Regions from separate parts of the Homo sapiens genome. Here region 2 is linked to region 1. The links come from fine-mapping of genetic effects on gene expression. Tissue or cell type: nucleus accumbens. Region 1 holds a variant in brackets; the other region holds the start of a gene. All regions are shown on one strand. Distances are from middle to middle.

The links. PIP is the estimated chance that this variant, and not a neighbour inherited with it, causes the effect.
Region 2: CCDC8 starts here. The variant in region 1 is fine-mapped to the expression of CCDC8 in nucleus accumbens (GTEx, PIP above 0.99). The same link has a PIP of 0.9 or more in amygdala, cerebral cortex, hypothalamus, prefrontal cortex and putamen.

What each region holds. Positions count from the first base shown.
Region 1 is chr19:46,429,464-46,440,235 of GRCh38, forward strand. No RefSeq gene overlaps it. Among named protein-coding and RNA genes, the nearest start is that of PNMA8C, 5.9 kb to the left of the region's middle. RefSeq lists a silencer at 4,915-5,115. The variant C/T (reference allele first, on the strand shown) is at 5,763.
Region 2 is chr19:46,409,353-46,417,507 of GRCh38, forward strand. It overlaps CCDC8 (coiled-coil domain containing 8 subunit of 3M complex), which reads right to left and starts at 4,212. Exons shown (of 1, transcript NM_032040.5): 1 at 977-4,212. The coding sequence starts at 3,458. The coding sequence ends at 1,842. RefSeq lists enhancers at 2,586-3,419, 5,086-5,919, 5,920-6,752 and a silencer at 7,179-7,268.

The DNA.
Region 1 (10,772 bases):
ACACACACACACACACACACACACACTATAATATTCAGAGCGATATGACAATTTAGACTCAAAATGCTTCAGAGGATAAAACATTCTTTTTTTTTTTTTTTTTTTTTTGAGATGAAGTCTCCCTCTGTTGCCCAGGCTAGAGTGCAGTGGCCCGATCTTGGCTCATTGCAACCTCTGCCTCCCCAGTTCAAGCGATTCTCCTGCCTCAGCTTCCCAAGTAGCTGGGATTACAGGCATGTGCCACCAAGCTCAGCTAATTTTTGTATTTTTAGTAGAGATGTAGTTTCACCATGTCGGCCAGGCTGGTCTTGAACTCCCAACCTCAGGTGATCCATCCACTTCGGCCTCCCAAAATGCTAGGATTACAGGCCACAGCCATTGCACCTGGCCGCGAAAACATTCTTTATACTATATTTGCAACTCTTCTGTAGGTTTATGGTTGTTTCAAATAAATGTTTAAAAATAAATAAGAAATGTCTCCCCCATGTGATGACATCCACAATGTCTATTCCTCTCCTCCCCAGTCCCCATTAATAAAGCCAAAACATTTGGGTTAGGTCGACACCCTTTATACCCCCAGTTCCAGGGATAAGCCCTGATTGGCTTGAACCAATTAGCATAATCTCACCCTCCTTCCCACAGTGATTGGTTCAGAAATGGTCACCCAGGTAACCTGGACAAAAAGCAATTAGTGCTTAATATGCCCCTCTTCTCTGAGATTGGTTAAAGGTTAGACACGTGAACTCAGTAAGTCCAGTCAGAATGAAGGTAAGGATTTCTGCAACTGGTAAGCGGAGGAAGACTCTCTCTTTCCTCCTAGACGTGAAAGACTAAGTATAGGAGCTACAGGAGGCTGTCTTGGAAGCATGACAAACTCTCTTCCTTCCTTCCTTCCTTCCTTCCTTCCTTCCTTCCTTCCTTCCTTCTTTTTTCTTTCTTTCCTTCTTTCTTTCAGACAGAGTCTTGCTCTGTCGCCCAGGCTGGAGTGCAGTGGCGCGATCTCGACTCACTGCAACCTCAACCTCTCAGGTTCAAGCAATTCTCCTGCCCCAGCCTGTAAAACAGCTGAGATTACAGGCGCCCGCCACCACGCCCGGCTAACTTTTTGTGTTTTTAGTAGAGACAGGGTTTCACCATGTTGTCCAGGCTGGTCTCAAACTCCTGACCTCAAGTGATCCACCTGCCCCGGCCTCCCAAAGTGCTGGGCTTACAGGCATGAACCACCGCGTCCAGCCAATAAACACTTTGAGGATGAACTTTGCATCTAGAGGAAGGCAGAGTTGAGGGAACAACCAGAAACCAGGCCATAGTCAGGAAGACATCATATGCCTCAGGATCAAACAACACCTGAAACCGACATCCCCTGAAACTTTGTTTTTACACGTAGTCAGAAGTGCACGAATTATAAATGAAAATCCATTAACTGAACACATGGTGTAACCAGCACCCAAATCAGTAAATGAACATCATAGCATTCCCAGAGGATATCCTGTGCTTTCTCCAAATCACTATATCCTCTTAAGGGAAGCCACTATCTTGACTTTCAACAGCATAGGTTAGTTTTGCCTGTTTTTGTATTTTACATAAATGGAATCACATATTACGTGGTCTATGTTTCTTGGTGAACATATATGTACATATCCATTAGTTTTAAGCCTGAACAAATGCCTTAGCAGATTCTACAAGTTTCCCAAACTGGTCGTACCATTTTATTCTCCCACCAAACAGTGTAAAAAAAAAAAATCCAGTTTCGCCACATGCTCATCAATACTAGATTTTTTTTTTTCCTGAGATGGAGTTTTGCTCTTGTTGCCCAGGCTAGAGTACAATGGCACGATCTCGGCTCACTGCAAGCTCCGCCTCCCGGGTTCACGCCATTCTTCTGCCTCAGCCTCCCGAGTAGCTGGGACTACAGGCGCCCACCACTAGGCCCGGCTAATTTTTTTGTATTTTTAGTAGAGACGGGGTTTTACCGTGTTAGCCAGGATGGTCTCGATCTCCTGACCTCGTGATCTGCACGTCTTGGCCTCTCAAAGTGCTGGGATTACAGGCGTGAGCCACCGCGCCCGGCCTGATGCCTCCGGTTTTATAGTCAGGAAAACCGAAGATCAGAGAGGTTAATTCACTTACCTAAGGTCACACAGCTAGTGAATGGCAAAGCTAGACTTCCCGCCTCAGCACCCTGACTCCTGGGCGCACAGATTTAACATTATACAATACCATGGAGTTCCCTGAGAAAGGGGTCCCATATTGTGTCACGCGGCTTAGTTCCTGTTCTGTCGTGAAGTTTCTGGATGACAGTTCCCTCTCTGGGCTGTATGTTGATTTTGTTCAGTGCCAGTTTAGCTAAGCTGGGCTTGTGTGTCCTAGAATAGCTTTCTGCAGGTGGCTGTTGGTTAGAGTCGTCTAAAAGAGAAATGTGCATTAGATTTACACAGCGGCTGGTGCTGTGAGAAGGTCTGCACAGGGTGCCACATGGCTCATGCATTTCATGACTGGTCTGTGGGCTCACCTTATTGGCTTGGGGCAGCCTCTGGGACTCCACCTGCTCCTGCCGGTCTCCTTTTCAGCGTCGGTGAACTTGGGGCCAGCACCGGAGCAGCTCTGTGGGGGCAAAAGGCACCAGCTTCCCCTGCAGGTCAAGCGTGGAATTGAGGTTGAAGGTGGGAAAAGAGACGTTGGTTGGGGGCGGGGGTTCCAGTTTGTCTTCAAGGATTCTAATTTTTTTTTTTTTTTTTTTTTTTTTTTGAGACGGAATCTCGCTCTGTTGCTCAGGCTGGAATGCAATGGTGCCATCTCTGCTCACTGCAACCTCCACCTCCCGGGTTCAAGCGATTCTCCGGCCTCAGCCTCCTGAGTAGCTGGGATTACAGGCACCCGCCATCATGCCCAGCTAATTTTTGTATTTTCATAGAGATGGGGTTTCACCATGTTGGCCAGGCTGGTCTCGAACTCCTGACTTCAAATGATCCGCCTGCCTCAATCTCCAAAAATGCTGGGATTGCAGGAGTGAGCCACCGCACCTGGCCTAGATTGTTCTTGTAGGTTCCAATTTGTCCTCTCTGTCCCGGTTCAGTTTCTAAATTGCCCAGCAGACTGGCCTACAGAGACTTAAAACCCAATACTAGTCACAGAAAAAAAAACTTTGATACACCCCTCCTCCAGCAACCCTAGCGCTCCCTGGTTAGTAATTTTTTTTTTTTTTTTTTTTTTTTGGAGATAAGGGTCTCTCTATGTTGCCCAGGCTGGTATCAAACTCCTGAGTTCAAGTGATTCTCCCACCTCGGCCTCCCAAAGTGTTGGGATTACAGGCCTGAGCCACCACGCCCAGCCTCAGTAACTTTTAAACAAGATCTCGCCATCCCTATATTATTATTATTATTTTGCCATCACGAATATAGTTTATTTTTAAATTTTTAATTTTTAATTGTGCGGGTACATGGTAGCTGTATATATGTATGGGGTTCACAAGATATTTGATACAGGCATGCAATGAGAAATAATCACATTGTGGAGAATGAAGTCGCCATCCCCTTAAGAACTTATCCTTTGTGTGACAAACAATCCAATTACATTCATTTAGCTATTTTGAAATGTACTATTATTATTAACAATAGTCATCCTGTTGTGCTATCAAATAGTATGTCTTATTCATTCTTTCTATTTGTGTTGAGTATTGTACCCATTAACCATCCCCACCTCCCCCATCCATCCCGCCGACGACCCTTCCCAGCCTCTGGTAACCTTCTGTCTATATGTTAAAAAAAAAAAAAAAACTGCTTTTTTTGTTTTGTTTTGTTTCGAGATGGAGTCTCACTCTGTCGCCCAGGCTGGAGTGTAATGGTGCGATCTTGGCTCACTGCAACCTCTGCCTCCCAGGTTCAAGTGATTCTCATGCCTCAGCCTCCCTAGCAGCTGAGATTACAGGCACGCGCCACCACGCCTGGCTAATTTTTGTATTAGTAGAGATGGGGTTTCACCATGTCAGCCAGGCTGGTCTGGAACTCCTGACCTCAAGTGATCCACCCGCCTCGGCCTCCCAGAGTGCTGGGATTACAGGCGTGAGCCAACATGCCTGTCCTCGTTCAATTGTTTTGATTATTTTAATTCCCACAAATAAATGAGAACATGCCGTTTGTCTTTCTGTGCCTGGCTTATTTCACTTAACATAATGACCTCCAGTTCCATCCACGTTTTTGCAAATGGCAGGATCTCATTCTTTTTCATGGCTGAATAGTACTCCATTGTGTATAAGCACCACATTTTCTGTATCCATTCTTCTGTTGATGGACACTCAGGTTGTTTCCAAATCTTCACTGTCGTGGACAGTGCTGCAAAAAATATGGGAGTGCAGAGATCTCCTTAATCTACTGATTTCCTTTCTTTTGGGTATATACCCAGCAGTGGGATGGCAGGATCAATTTTTAGCTTAATTTTTAGTTTTGAGGAACCTCCAATTTACATTCCCACCAACAGAGTATGAGGGTTCCCTTTTCTCCACCAGCATTTGTTCTTTGCTGTCTTTTGGATATAAGCTTTTTTTTTTTTTTTTGAGACGGAGTTTCACTCTTGTTGCCCAGGCTGGAGTGCAATGGTGCAATCTCGGCTCACTGCAACCTCCGCCTCTCAGGTTCAAGCAATTCTCCTGCCTCAGCCTCATGAGTAGCTGGGATTACAGGCATGCTCCACCACGCCTGGCTAATTTTTTGTATTTTTGGTAGAGACAGCGTTTCTCCATGTTGGTCAGGCTGGTCGTGAACTCCCGACCCCAGGTGATCTGCCCGCCTCAGCCTCCCAAAGTGCTGGGATTACAGGCGTGAGCAATTGCATCTGGCCAGATATAAGCTATTTTAACTGGGGTGAGATGGATATCTTTATCTTATTTTAGTTTTGACCACCATCCCTTTCTGGGTCCTCACCTCCCCAGATTCACCCCCAATTGTCTAAGATCCAATCACATAATGTTTCTTATCCCACGTGGCTCATAGCAGACCTCCTTCTGCTTAACACGGACCAATCCTGAACAACCATGACTCTTCCTTTATAAACATCAGTTGCACTAACATACTACTTTTCAGGTTTTCCAGTAGAGAGAAAACAAGGGAAGTGTGCCCTCTCATTTAGGGGTTTTAGGAACCAGCTCTTCCACAGAGATTTCTTTTAAGTCTAATTTTGTCATAAAAAATTTTGCATTCGAGCCGGGCGTGGTGACTCACACCTGTAATCCCAGCACTTTGGGAGGCTGAGGCGGGTGGATTACCTGAGGTCAGGAGTTCGAGACCAGCCTGGCCAACATGACAAAACCCCATCTCTGGTAAAAATACAAAAATTAGCCGGGTGTGTTGGCACACACCAGTAATCCCAGCTACTTGGGAGACTGAGGCAGGAGAATCACTTGAACCTGGCAGGTGGAGATTGCAGTGAGCCAAGATTGCGCCACTGCACTCCAGCCTGGGTGACAGAGTGAGACTCTGTCTCAAAAAAAAAAAAAAAAAAAAAATTCACATTCGACTCCATGACATGACCATTTTAATACAAAGATGAGTTTTCCTTCCAAAGATGAAGTAAAATTGTTGATCCAAAATATTTGCCACGAGTTTATGAATCCTTGACACGCCATTGCATATCCCTGGGCTTATGCATGTTCCCAATTGAGAAGCAAGGGAAGAGAATGGTTCATTTATTTGATCCACCAGGATTTACTGAGAAGTGTCCTTGTTCTAGGCTTGGGTAACGTGCTGGGCATACTTGAGTGAGGGAGA[C/T]AGGCTCTGCTTTGAGGAGCTCAGTCCAGTGGTTACGACAGGCTGGCTCAGTCTGTTTACAGGCAGGGAGAGAAGCCCTATAATTACTACGATGTGTTCCGATCCTGGTGTGGGGTGTAGAATACAGAATATATCAAGTGGGCTTAGTTTTCCTGGAACATGTTTTGCTAGAGTTTAAAGAGAGAACCGCATAAAGTCCTTTGGCGGCCCTGAGATACCTGACTGACATAATTACTGTATCAGTAACCTTTTTATTAATTCACTCTTCAACGTCTCTGATTAATTCTCCATAAAGGAATTCATCTGTCTGGTCTCATCTGGGAAGGCTTCCCGCAGGAGGTGACATTTGAGAGAAATCTTGATGGATGCATATAATAACCACAAATAATACTATTTTAAAAAGTAATAACTGCTAACTTTTGCATAGGGCATACTAAAATATTCTAAGCCTTCTATGTGTACTAAGTCATCTAATTTTTACAACAGTCCATGAGTTAGATGTTTTATTGATTCAATCATTTATTCATTCAACAAGTATTTATTGAATAGTTCCTGTATCTTATAGTCAGGAAAACTGAGGACCAGAGAGGTTAAATCACTTACCTGGGGCCACACAGCTAGTGAGATTTTTTTTTTTTGAGATAGGGTCTTGCTCTGTTGCCCAGGCCGGAATGCAGTGGCGCAATCATGGCTCACTGCAGCCTCAACCTCCCAGGCTCAAGCAATCTTCCCACCTCAGCCTCCTGAGTAACCGAGACTATAGGCGCATGCCACCACACCTAGCTAACTTAATTTTTTTTTTTTTTTTTTTTTGTAGAGACAGAGTCTCACTATGTTGCCCAGGCTGGTCTCAAACTCCTGAGCTCAAGCAATCCTCCTGGCTCAGTCTCCCAAAGTGCTGGGATTACAGGTATGAGCCATTATGCCTGGCCAAATGAGTTTTGTTTTTTTTTTTTGGGGGGACGAACTCTCGCTCTGTGGCCCAGCCTGGAGTGCAGTGGCGCGATCTTGGCTCACTGCAACTTCCGCCTCCCGGGTTCACTCCATTCTCCTGCCTCAGCCTCCCGAGTAGCGGGGACTACAGGTGCCCGCCACCACGCCTGGCTAATTTTTTGTATTTTTTTTAGTAGAGACGGGGTTTCACCACGTTAGCCAGGACGGTCTCGATCTCCTAACCTCGTGATCCGCCCGCCTCAGCCTCCCAAAGTGCTGGGATTACAGGCGTGAGCCACCGCGCCTGGCCTTTTTTTTTTTTTTTTTTTTTTTTTTTTTTTTGAGACGGAGCCTCGCTCTGTCACCCAGGCTGGAGTGCAATGGCGGGATCTCAGCTCACTGCAACATCCGCCTCCCAGGTTCAAGTGATTCTCCTGCCTCAGCCTCCCGAGTAGCTGGAATTACAGGTCCCCACCATTACGCCCAGCTAATTTTTGTATTTTTGGTAGAGAGGGGGGTTTCTCCATGTTGGCCAGGCTGATCTCGAACTCCTGAGCTTAGGTGATCTGCCCACCTCGACCTCCCAAAGTGCTGGGATTACAGGCATGAGCTACCACGCCTGGCCGAGATTTTTACAATTTGATTTAGCTTAATTTTTTTCCATGAATTTTCTGTTTGTATCTTTTACCCATTTTTATTAAAAAATGGGGTTTCCTTTTTTGCTGAAGAGTAAAAAAGCTTTACAGATAAAGGAAATTAGCATATTATCACACCACATGTAATAGCTTAGTTACTTGTTTTTTGTTGGTGGCTTTTTTTTTTTTTGAGATGCAGTCTCATTCTGTCACCCAGGCTACAGTGCAGTGGCCGATCTCAGCTCACTGCAAGCTCCGCCTCTCAGGTTCATGCCATTCTCCTGCCTCAGCCTCCCAAGTAGCTGGGACTACAGGCGCCTGCCACCACGCCTGGCTAATTTTTTGTATTTTTAGTAGAGACGGGGTTTCACCATGTTAGCCAAGGTGGTCTCGATCTCCTGACCTCTTGATCTGCCTGCCTCAGCCTCCCAAAGTGCTGGGATCACAGGCGTGAGCCACCGCGCCTGGACGATGGAGTTTTTTTTTTTTTTTAAATAATCTATATATATATATTTATTATTATTATTTTATTTTTGAGATGGAATCTCACTTTATTGCCCAGGCTGGAGGGCAGTGGTGTGATCTCGGCTCAATGCAACCTCCGCTTCCCAGGTTCAAGCGATTCTCCTGCCTCAGTCTCCTGAGTAGATGGTATTACAGGCGTGAGCCACCACGCCTGGCTATTTTCTTCGTATTTTTAGTAGAGTCAAGGTTTCACTATGTTGGCCAGGCTGGTCTTGAACTCCTGACCTCAAGTGATCCACTTGCCTCAGCCTCCCAAAGTGCTGGGATTGCAGGCGTGACCCACCGCGCCCGGCCTTGGCTAAGTTACTTGTTGGTTAGAGTCTAGGTTCTGGGGATAGAGCAATGAATGAGATGGACAAAATCCCCTGATTTCCAAAAGCTGACACTGTATTGGGCCGACAGAGCAGGGACAAATAAATAAGATATATAATATGTCATGTGGTGATCAGGATTGGTTACGGGGAAAAATAAAGCAGGAAAGACAGAGAAGGGCCAGGACTCACGCCTGTAATCCCGCCACTTTAGGAGGCCAAGGCAGGAGGACTACTTGAGCCCAGGAGTTTGAGACCAGCCTGGGCAACAAAGTGAGACCCCAGGCTGCAGTGAGCTATGATGATACCACTGCACTCCAGCCTGGGAGACAGAGTGAGATCCCATCTCAAAAGAAAAAATTAAATTAAAAAGACAGACAGAGGGCCGGGCATGGTGGCTCACGCCTGTAATCCCAGCACTTTGAGAGGCCGAGGTGGGCGGATCACGAGATCAAGAGATGGAGACCATCCTGGCTAACACAGTGAAACCCCGTCTCCACTAAAAATACAAAAAATTAGCCGGGCATGGTGGCGGGCGCCTGAAGTCCCAGCTACTCGGGAGGCTGAGGCAGGAGAATGGCGTGAACCCGGGAGGCGGAGCTTGCAGTGAGCCGAGATCGCGCCACTGCACTCCAGCCTGGGCAACAGAGCGAGACTCTGTCTCAAAAAAAAAAAAAAAAAAAGAGAGAGACAGAGCGAGAGAGACAGGCATAGAGAGTGTGTATTGGGAGAGGATGTTATAATTTACAGTGTGCCAAGTAAAGGTTTCATGGAGGTGACATTTGGAGCAAAGACCTGAAGGAGGTGAGAGAGCCACCTTGTGAACATGTGAGGGAACTGTGTTCCAAGCAGAAGGAACAGTCAGTGCGGCCGGGCACGGCGGCTCACGCCTGTAATCCCAGCACTTTGGGAGGCCAAGGCGGGTGGATTGCCTGAGCTCAGGAGTTCAAGACTAGCTGGGCAACATGGTGAAATCCTGTCTCTACTAAAATACAAAAAATTAGCCGGGCGTGGTGGCGGGCGCTTGTAGTCCCAGCTACTCGGGAGGCTGAGGCAGGAGAATGGCTTGAACCTGGGAGGCGGAGCTTGCAGTGAGCCGAGATCCCGCCACTGCACTCCAGCCTGGGTGACAGAGCGAGACTTCTTCTCAAAAAAAAAAGAAAAAAAAAAAGTCAGTGCAAAGGCCCTGAGGCTGGAGCCTGCCTGGTGTACTTGAAGAACAGCAGAAACCCGTGGTGCCTGGCAGCAGAGGGAGCAAGGGAGTGTTGAGAAGAAAGCCCAAGAAAAAGCAGGCCGCGCAAGAGAGGAGGTGACAGCCAGATCTTACAAGACCTCAAAGCTCCTGGTGGGGACTTGGGACTTTTCTCTGGGTGAGATGGAACACCCAAGGTGGGGAGGTTTGATGAGGTAACTGAGGGCGTTATAGGAGTTTGCCAGTCAGGAATGATGTTGGAGTAGGAGGATGTAGGTTTCTGAGAGTTGAAAAGGAACAATTAATCCTTCACACAGCAAATGTATATATTTATACATTTAACTCTGGCTCTGTTCCAAACCTTGTGTTAACAGTGAGCCCAATAGCTATTAATACAAATAGAATGTAATGCCAGGAATTTAGCCACTCATAACTTACATGAGTTATGAACTTTTTTTTCTTTTTGAGACAGGGTCTCTCTCTGTCACCCAGGCTGGAGTGCAGTGGCGTCATCCTGGCTCACTGCAATCTCTGCCTCCCGGGTTCAAGCCATTCTCCTGCCTCAGCCTCCCAAGTAGCTGGGATTACAGGAGCACACCACCACACCCAGCTAATTTTTGTATTTTTAGTAGAGATGGGGGTCTCAACATGTTGCCCAGGCTGGTCACGAACTCCTGACCTCAGGTGATACACTTGCCTCGGCCTCTCAAAGTGCTGGGATTACAGGCGTGAGCCACCACGCCCTGCCTGAGGTGTCGTTTTTGACATTTAAATCTGCAATCTAGGCTGAGGATGGTGGCGCACGCCTGTAATCCCAGCTACTTGGGAGGCTGAGGCAGGAGAATCGCCTCCACCCAGGAGGTGGAGGTTGCAGTGAGCCGAGATGATGCCACTGCACTCCAGCCTAAGTGACAGAGTAAGACTCTCTCTCAAAAAAAATTAAAAAAAAAAAAAATAAATAAATAATAAATCTCCAATCTACCTCTAACTTTATACCTTTCCAGATGGCTATTGAGTGTCTTAGTTTTATGGAGAAAAGTCCATCTCGTTTTCAATGATATGAAATTCCACTGTTAAAATGTAAATTCCCAGCTGGGTATGGTGGCTCATGCCTGTAATCCCAGCACTTTGGGAGGCCAAGGCGGGTGGATTGCCTGAGCTCAGGAGTTCAAGACTAGCTGGGCAACATGGTGAAATCCTGTCTCTACTAAAATACAAAAAATTAGCCGGGCGTGGTGGCGGGCGCTTGTAGTCCCAGCTACTCGGGAGGCTGAGGCAGGAGAATGGCTTGAACCTGGGAGGCGGAGCTTGCAGTGAGCCGAGATCCCGCCACTGCACTCCAGCCTGGGTGACAGAGCGAGACTTCTTCTCAAAAAAAAAAGAAAAAAAAAAAGTCAGTGCAAAGGCCCTGAGG
Region 2 (8,155 bases), 21 kb before region 1:
AGGCCTGCAACCAGTTAGGAAGACAGACTGGCCTTTGGACCTCCACGAACTCTCTTTTCTCCTGCCCTCAGCAAGGCTAGAGTGTGGTCATTTGCTGTTTTTCACTGCTAGGGGTTGTGGGGACACAAGGCAATACAGGCCCCCAGCTTCCTCCTAACCTCCACAGGGCTTTAGCAACCCAGTTTCTTCCCAATTATAGGAAGCAGTTGGCCGCGTGCAGTGGCTCATGCCTGTAATCCCAGCACTTTGGGAAGCAGAGGTGGGCAGATCAGCTGAGGTTAGGAGTTCAAGACAAGCTTGGCCAATATGGTGAAACCTCATCTCTACTAAAAATACAAAAATTAGCCAGGTGTGGTGGCACACACCTGTAGTCCCAGCTATTCGGGAGGCTGAGGGAGGAGAATCGCTTGAACCAGGGAGGCGGAGATGGCAGTGAGCCGAGATCGTGCCACTGCACTCCAGCCTGGGAGACAGAGAGTGAGATTCCATCTCCAAAAAGAAAAAAAAAAATGCAGCAGCAATTAATGCACAATACACACAGCCTCTTTTTTTTTTTTTTTTTTTTTTTTTTTTTGAGACAGAGTCTCACTGTGTCACTAGGCTGGAGTGCAATGGCACAATCTCGGCTCACTGCAACCTCCACCTCCTGGGTTCAAGAGATTCTCTTGCCTCAGCCTCCAGAGTAGCTGGGACTACAGGCGTGCGCCACAAGGCCAGTCTAATTTTTGTATTTTTATTAGAGACGGGGTTTCACCACGTTGGCCAGGATGGTCTCGATCTCTTGACCTCGTGATCCACCCGCCTTGGCCTCCCTAAGTGCTGGGATTACAGGCGTGAGCCACCATGCCCGGCCAACCACAGCCCCTCTTTTGGGCCTTTTCCTATTGCAATGATTTTTCAATGTGTCCAGTGGCCGAGTTGCCCAGATGTCCGTGGAGCTTGATGCAAACAGAATTCAGAGCCACACAGGCACCGCTAGCAAATCCACACCTCTGGTGCCGAGGGCCCCAGAATCTGTGTTTTGAATGCATTTTTCAGACGCTTTTACTGTACCTTATAACCAAGATCGGGTGAGGTGTGCAAACCAAGGGCCCTGTCCCCTCCAAACCAGCAGAGCCCGGGGCATGAGGATGGCAAGCGAAGTGACAACATAAACACAGGTGTCTCCATCATCAAGGATGGGAGTGGAACGGACAGCAAGGGCCAGGTCACCCCCAGAGCATTCGTCAGTTGTCAAGTCCAAAGCTAAGAAATCAGTTCATAAATGTTTTTTGATTTGCATGTTGGCTCAACTCTTTTTAAGTCCAAGGAGGCAGTCCACATTAAGTGTGCAGGCAAAAAAGAGATGGAAAAAGGAGTCAGTTTCTCCCCTGCCCTCCCTCTCTCCCTTTATCAAGCTGAGCACCTTGAGTTGCATTTGAGGAAATGAAAACTATAGGTGACGCAACCCCATTGTGTCGAATTCTTTCTTTACATTTTTTGGGTTGCTACAAGGAATCAGTATTTTTTTTTTTTAATCAGATGGTGTGTGTGGTGGCTCACATCTGTAATCCCAGCATTTTGGGAGGCCGAGGCAGGAGGATCACTTGAGGCCAGAAGTTTGAGGCTGCAGTGAGTTATGATCATGCCACTGCACTCCAGCCTGGGCAACAGAGTGAGACCCTGTCTCTAAAAAATTTAAAAAAAAATCAAAGCATGAACAAAACTTTAACAAGAGAATAAAGAGGGTTGTTAGGTGGAGACGTGGCCAGCACTCCACCTCCACTTTGAAGTTCAGAGGCAGAGCATCTCTCCCTCCCACACTTGGAGGGAGGGCCCGTGGGCTGTCTCTAGCCCTCACCTCACAGCTGGTCTTCTTGCTCTCCCTGCTCAGCTTCTGCTCTGGCCTCGGCCCTCAGCACCCTGAGGTTCCTGGCCTCTCCTGCCCTGGGGACTCTCTTGGGCAGGGTTGGCAACCGGGGAGTGTGCCAGAAGGCTCTCCGGCGCTTGCAAAACCACGAAAAGCGTCCAGGGGTCTGGAACCTCACTGTCTTGACCTGTTTCCGGGCCCTGGCTCCTGGAGCTGTTCCTGTGGTCCCTTGGGCAGCTGAGACTTCAGCTTCCTGGATACCTGGGGCCCCTGCCCTCTGATTATGTGCAGCCTCTGCCCTCTGGCCAGCCCGGGCCTGTGCCCTCTGATTATCTGCACCCTGGACAGCTGGGGCCCTTTCCCTCTGGTCATGTACGGCCTCTTCCCTTTGATTATCTGTAACCTCTGACCCCTGGTCAGCTGGGGCCTCCGCCCTCTGATTATCTGCAGCCTCTTCCCTGTGGTTATCTGTGCCCTGTGACCTCTGGTCAGCTGGGGCCTCTGCCCTCTGATTATCTGCAGCCTCTTCCCTCTGGTTATCTGCAGCCTCTGCCCCCTCCTCAGCTGGGGCCCCTGCCCTCTGATTATCTGCAGCCTCTTCCCTCTGATTATCTGCAGCCTCTGCCCCCTGGTCAGCTGGGGCCCCTGCCCTCTGATTACCTGCAGCCCCTTCCCGCTGGTCAGCTATGGCCTCTTCCCTTTGACTATCTGCAGCCTCTCCCCCCTGATCAGCCTCGATGTCTGCCCCCTGACCTGTGGGTGCTGTCTGCTCCTTCCTGCGGCGCCGAAAGGAGGCCCAGTTGATCTTGGGCCTCCATCGCCTAGGGGAAGCCTGGGGCACACAAACATCTCCCGCGTTTCCCAAGCGATCCCCCGGGCTGGTGCCCTCTGGCGCCGATGATACCCCTGCGCTCTCCACTGCGGTGGAGGCCAGCCGGGCCTCGCCCACCCCGGGGCCCGCCCTCGGCGCCCAACCCTTCACCCTCCGCTTCAGCTTCCCCCAGGACACCTGGCTGACATACTCCCGCCACCTGTCCGCTTTGGACAGCTGAGGCCCCAGGTTGTCCTCAAACATGGGCACTGGCAGGTTGACGCGGCGGCGGGCAGGCGGCGCGCTGGGCTGCTTCTCCTGTCGCCGGAGGAAGGCCTCGACCAGTTCCTCATCATCCTCACTCTCCAGGTCGCTTCCCAGGAACTTGCTGCCCAGGTAGCTGACGGGCATTTTGCGCACCTTCTTGCCCCGCCGCGGGCCCTGGCGGCTCTTGTCTCTGGAGGTCTCGAAGTCGCTGAACTCGCTGTCGCTGGCGTTGCTGCTGTCGTACGTGCCCACGACCAGCCGGGGCGGAGGAGTCACCATCTGCTGCACTCTCCTCCTCACTCGGGGCTCCTTGGGCTTTTTGGGGGGCTGGGGCGGGTGCGGGGTGCTCTTCTCCATGATGCGGGCCACGTCCTCCAGGGTGCGGCCCTCTTCTTCCAGGAACTGGGTCAGCCGCTCCCGAAATTCTGCTTCCTTGGTGGCGGGCTTAGAGATGACTCTCCAGACGCCCCCAGCCAGCCTGACCTCCCGGGGGATGAGCAAATAGTCGACGTCCTCCCCGATCTGCAGCATCCCCACCGTGGAGTCCTCCTCCTTGCGGAACACCTTGCCGATCTTCTTAAATGTCCCCACGGGCTTTAGGGCTTCCACGAGGACGTCCAAATCCACATCTTTGCAGACATCGGGGACGCTCCAAAGAATGAGGCAGTCGGGGGACGGCAGGAAGCCCCAGGGGAACCAGCCCCCCACGTGGCTTTTCTCGAGAGTCTTTAAGATCTCCAGGGTGATATCTGGGGTGAGGGGGCAATGAGCCCCAACAAACTACTGTAGCCCTTAGTCTTGAGGGAGGGACTGGATGGGGGGAGTTCCAGCAACGCTGACCGGAGAGTCTCACCTCCCTAGCCAGGGACGAGCCAAACGCCTCCAATCTCTTCGCCTGCAACAAGTACAGTCTTGACCAAGTCCGGCTCCCCCACCAAGGACTTGGGGGAATCAATTTCCAGGATGCCTACGTGAGCCGGGGGCGAGGTCAGTCCCAAGGCTCAAGGCCCACTCCAAGCTGGAAACGTGGTGTCCCAGCTCCAAGTTGGGGCGCGCGGGCTGCCAGCGACTCTTCCTGCCCCAGGCCCCAGGGACGCGGCTGGAACTTGGGACAGGACTTCGCAGACAAAGACGGTCCAGTCGAAGCTATTCAATATGGCCGAGGCGCTGGGAGGCCCCAGCCCGGGCCTCCAGTAGGGTCCCCCGCCCCCAGGCAGGCCGCCACCCAGCTCCAGGCTGACCTTGACGCGCCGCAGCCTGCCAGCCCGCGCGCTTAGAGCTCTGCACCGTGGAGCGCGCGGGCAGGAAGTTCCTCCTCGCCCTCCGCCAGAATGAGGCCCACCTTCCCCCGTCTCATCTTACACTCCCAGACTCTGGAAGACTGACAGGGGGGCTGTCCACTCCCTTCGGGGCGGCCTCCTTCCCCTCCCCCACAGGGGTGTGGCCGCGCCCCGGGCCTAGCTGGGCCCATTGCTTCCCAGCGAAGCGGCAGTGGCCCACGTCAGCACCTTTCCTGAAAGGCAGCGGTTCCCAAACCTGCCATCCGAAATGTGCAAGTTTCCAGCCAAGTCCGGGAGGTGGGTGTGCTAGTGGATTCTACTTTTTGAGAGCCACTGGCACCACAGATTAGCATTTTAAATTCACGCGACTATCGGTACCCGTACACCTATATGCGTGGGTAGAGAAATGGGTACCTGACTGCAACAGTCCCACTGTGGCGCTTGGCAGGTCAGGGCTCAATACATATTTTTGAGGGGATGAATAAACCCAAATGTTCATGGCCAGGCGCGGTGGCTCATGCCTGTAATGCCAGCACTTTGGGAGGCCCAGGTGGGTGGAACACTTGAGGCCAGGAGTTCGAGACCAGCCTGCCCAACATGGTGAAACCCTCGTCTCTACCCCGGGTGTGGTGGTGCGCGTGCGTAGTCCCAAGCTACGCGAGAGGCTGAGGCAGGAGAATGGCGTGAACCTGGGAGGTGGAGGTTGCAGAGATCGCGCCACTGCACTCCGGCCTGCGCAACAGAGGGAGACTGTCTCAAAAAAACAAAAGTGCAAAAAAACCCCTACAAATAAACAACAACAAAAAACCCTAAAAGTTCACGAGTAGAGACTGCCTCTATTTTATGGTAGTATCTTACAGTGAAATATTTTGCAACTTCGAAAAAAGAATGAGATGGCTAAGGATAGGCACGGTTTATGAGGCGCTTCCTATGTAGTAGGCACCATTCCCAGTGCTTTCTATGAATGAACTCAGGAAATCCTTGCTATAACAGGAGACTGGTAGCATGAGTACAATTCCCATTAGACAGCTGAGGAAACTGAGGCCCAAGGACATAAAACCACACTCTCAAGGTCACAGCCATGGGGAGTGGTTGAGTTTGGATTTGAATCCAGAATAGTCTGCCTTTTGTGTCGACCAAAGAGTCAAGATGGCCAGGCGCGGTGGCTCACGCCTGTAATCCCAGCCCTTTGGGAGGCTGAGGCGGGCAGATCACGAGGTCAGGAGATCAAGACAAGACCATCCTGGCTAACGCGGTGAAACCCTGTCTCTACTAAAAATGCAAAAAAATTAGCCGCGCGTGGTGGTACGTGCCTGTAGTCCCAGCTACTCGGGAGGCTGAGGCAGAAGAATCTCTTGAACCCGGGAGGCGGAGGTTGCAGTGAGCCGCGATCGCACCACTGCACTCCAGCCTGGACGACAGAGCAAGACTCCGTCTCAAAAAAAAAAAAAGAAAGAAAGAAAGAAAAAAAAGAATCAAGATGTGAACCAATGCTAGTCGCATTCGGCCGGGAGCTCGGTTCTTGAGACGCGAGTCTACCGAAGCTCCCGCCAGTTGAGAGGCGAGTCTGCCGAAGCTCCCGGCCGAAAAAGCCAAATCCTTCCTTAACCCAGTGTCTGAGGGGTTTTGTCCGTGGCTCCTCCTGCTACAGGACATGCGACTAGCATTGGTCCACATCTTTGGAACCAGGCATCCAGAGACATGTTGAATAGGCCTCGTTGTTAGGAACCCTCAGAGGTACATGGTAAGGCCAGTGCCATCAATCATCTTTTTACAGACGGTGAAACTGAGGCTGGTCTGAAGTTGCACAGCTCTGAGTGGTGGATCTAATATAATATTAGAACCAGATCTTGGGCACTAGCATTTAAAACACTAGCTGACGCTAAAGACACAGCTAATCCCCTTCTCCTAAATGTGTTGCACCATTTAACCACTTAGCAGCCACAATACTTGCAGCCACTCTTGCCTGGATGTGTACAAAGCCCCCTCACTGGGCTTCCCGCCTCCCCATCACTGCTTGCAATCCAGGCCCCATCCAGAAGCTGGGGGCATCTTTTAAAAACTTAGGTCCGATCTGTCTCTACTCTTTTGAAAATTCTCCATCTCAGGCTGGGCGCCGTGGCTCACGCCTTTAATCCAGCACTTTGGGAGGCTGAGGCGGGCGGATCACCTGAGGTCCGGAGTTTGAGACCAGCCTGGTCAACATGGCAAAACCCCATCTCTACTAAAAAATACAAAAATTGCCGGGCGCGGTGGCTCACGCTTGTAATCCCAGCATTTTGGGAGGCTGAAGCGGGTGGATCACCTGAGGTCAGAAGTTTGAGACCAGCCTGGCCAACATGGTGAAACCCCGCCTCTACTAAAACTACAAAACTAGCCTGTCTTGGTGGCGCATGCCTGTAATCCCAGCTACTCCGGAGGCTCAGGCAGGAGAATCGTTTGAATCCGGGATTCAGAGGTTGCAGTGAGCTGAGACCGTGCCATTGCACTCCAGCCTGGGCAACAAGAGCGAAACTCCGTCTCAAAAACAAACAAACAAAAAAAAGAAACGAACAAAAATATAAGAATTAGCCGGGCATGGTGACACATGCCTGTAATCCCAGCTACTGGGGAGGCTGAGGCAGAAGAATCGCTTGAACTGGGAGGCGGAGGTTGCAGTGAGCCAAGATCGCGCCACTGCCCTCCACCTTGGGCGACAGAGCGAGACTCCGTCTCAAATAAATAAATAAATGTGATCTTATTTAACTCATAAAGGAACCAGGCAAATTTTTAAAGAGGGAACGGAGGAAAAAGAGACGGGCCAGAGGGAAAGAAAAGATGTGGGGGCTTAGGGGACGTTAAGGTCTCAGCGAGCGGCCTGTTCACAATTACCGGCTTATTCAGGTTGTTTTTCTCTTGCAGAGCCAGGTCGTTGGGCTTCGCTGGATTTTTCTCCTCTTTCTCCCTGGCTCAGTCCCAGCCGCCGCGCTCAGCCCCCGGGCCTCCCGCGGCCCCGCCCCTCGCCTCCCCCTTCGCACAGTTTGTGGCCTCCGCAGTCCGGCGGTCTCCATGGCAACCACGGGACGCGCTCCTCCGCGCGGATCAAAACTAAGCGGGTGGGGCGGAGGCGGAGGCGAGGCTGCAGGGAGATGGTGGGGGTGGGGGCGCCACGGAGGACGAGGGCAGGAGCTCCTCTTTTCTGCCCCTGGTGCCTCCCTTAGGCCTCATCCCCAAAGCCAGCTTCCCTGAAAAGCTGTTTGTAGAAACCAAAAAATGAAAAATCCTAAGGACACCTAGGTTTCAGGAATGCTGATTAAAGAATCGCAAGTCTGAGGGCTCATGACAGTGCCTTCCAAGTGGTGACCTCGCAGATGAGACGTTTGGGTTTTGTAGTCATAAAAGGGCTTTCGTTTTGTTTGTTTGTTTTGTTTTTTGTTTGTTTTTCTTTTTTTATTTGGTGGGGGAGCAGGGAGCGGCGCAAGGAGGATAATCTAAGAAATGAAAATCCCAAATGTTCCATATTTTTGCAAAAATCGTCAACCTCCGGCCGGGGGCGGTGACTCATGCCTGTAATCCCAGCACTTTGGGAAGCCAAGGCAGGAGGATCGCTTGAGCCCAGGAATTGGAGACCAGCCTGGGCAACATAGCGAGACTCCGGTCTCCACAAAAAATTTAAAAATTAGCCGAATATTATGGTGTGCGCCTGTGGTCTGAGCTACTCGGGAGACTGAGGTGGGCCTATCGCTTGAGCCCGGGAGGTCAGGGCTGCAGGAAGCGGAGATCGCCCATCTGCACGCCAGCCTGGGCAACAGAGCGAGACTCCATCTCAAAAAAAAAAAAAATTGCCAGCCCCTGAACGGTTCAGCTGTGGGTGTTTTTAATTGCACAGATCTCTGGCAGGTGAGACCCTTCTCCAGCCATCACAGAATAAAATAATAAAAACGAGAACTGTAGCCTCACTTTTGCATT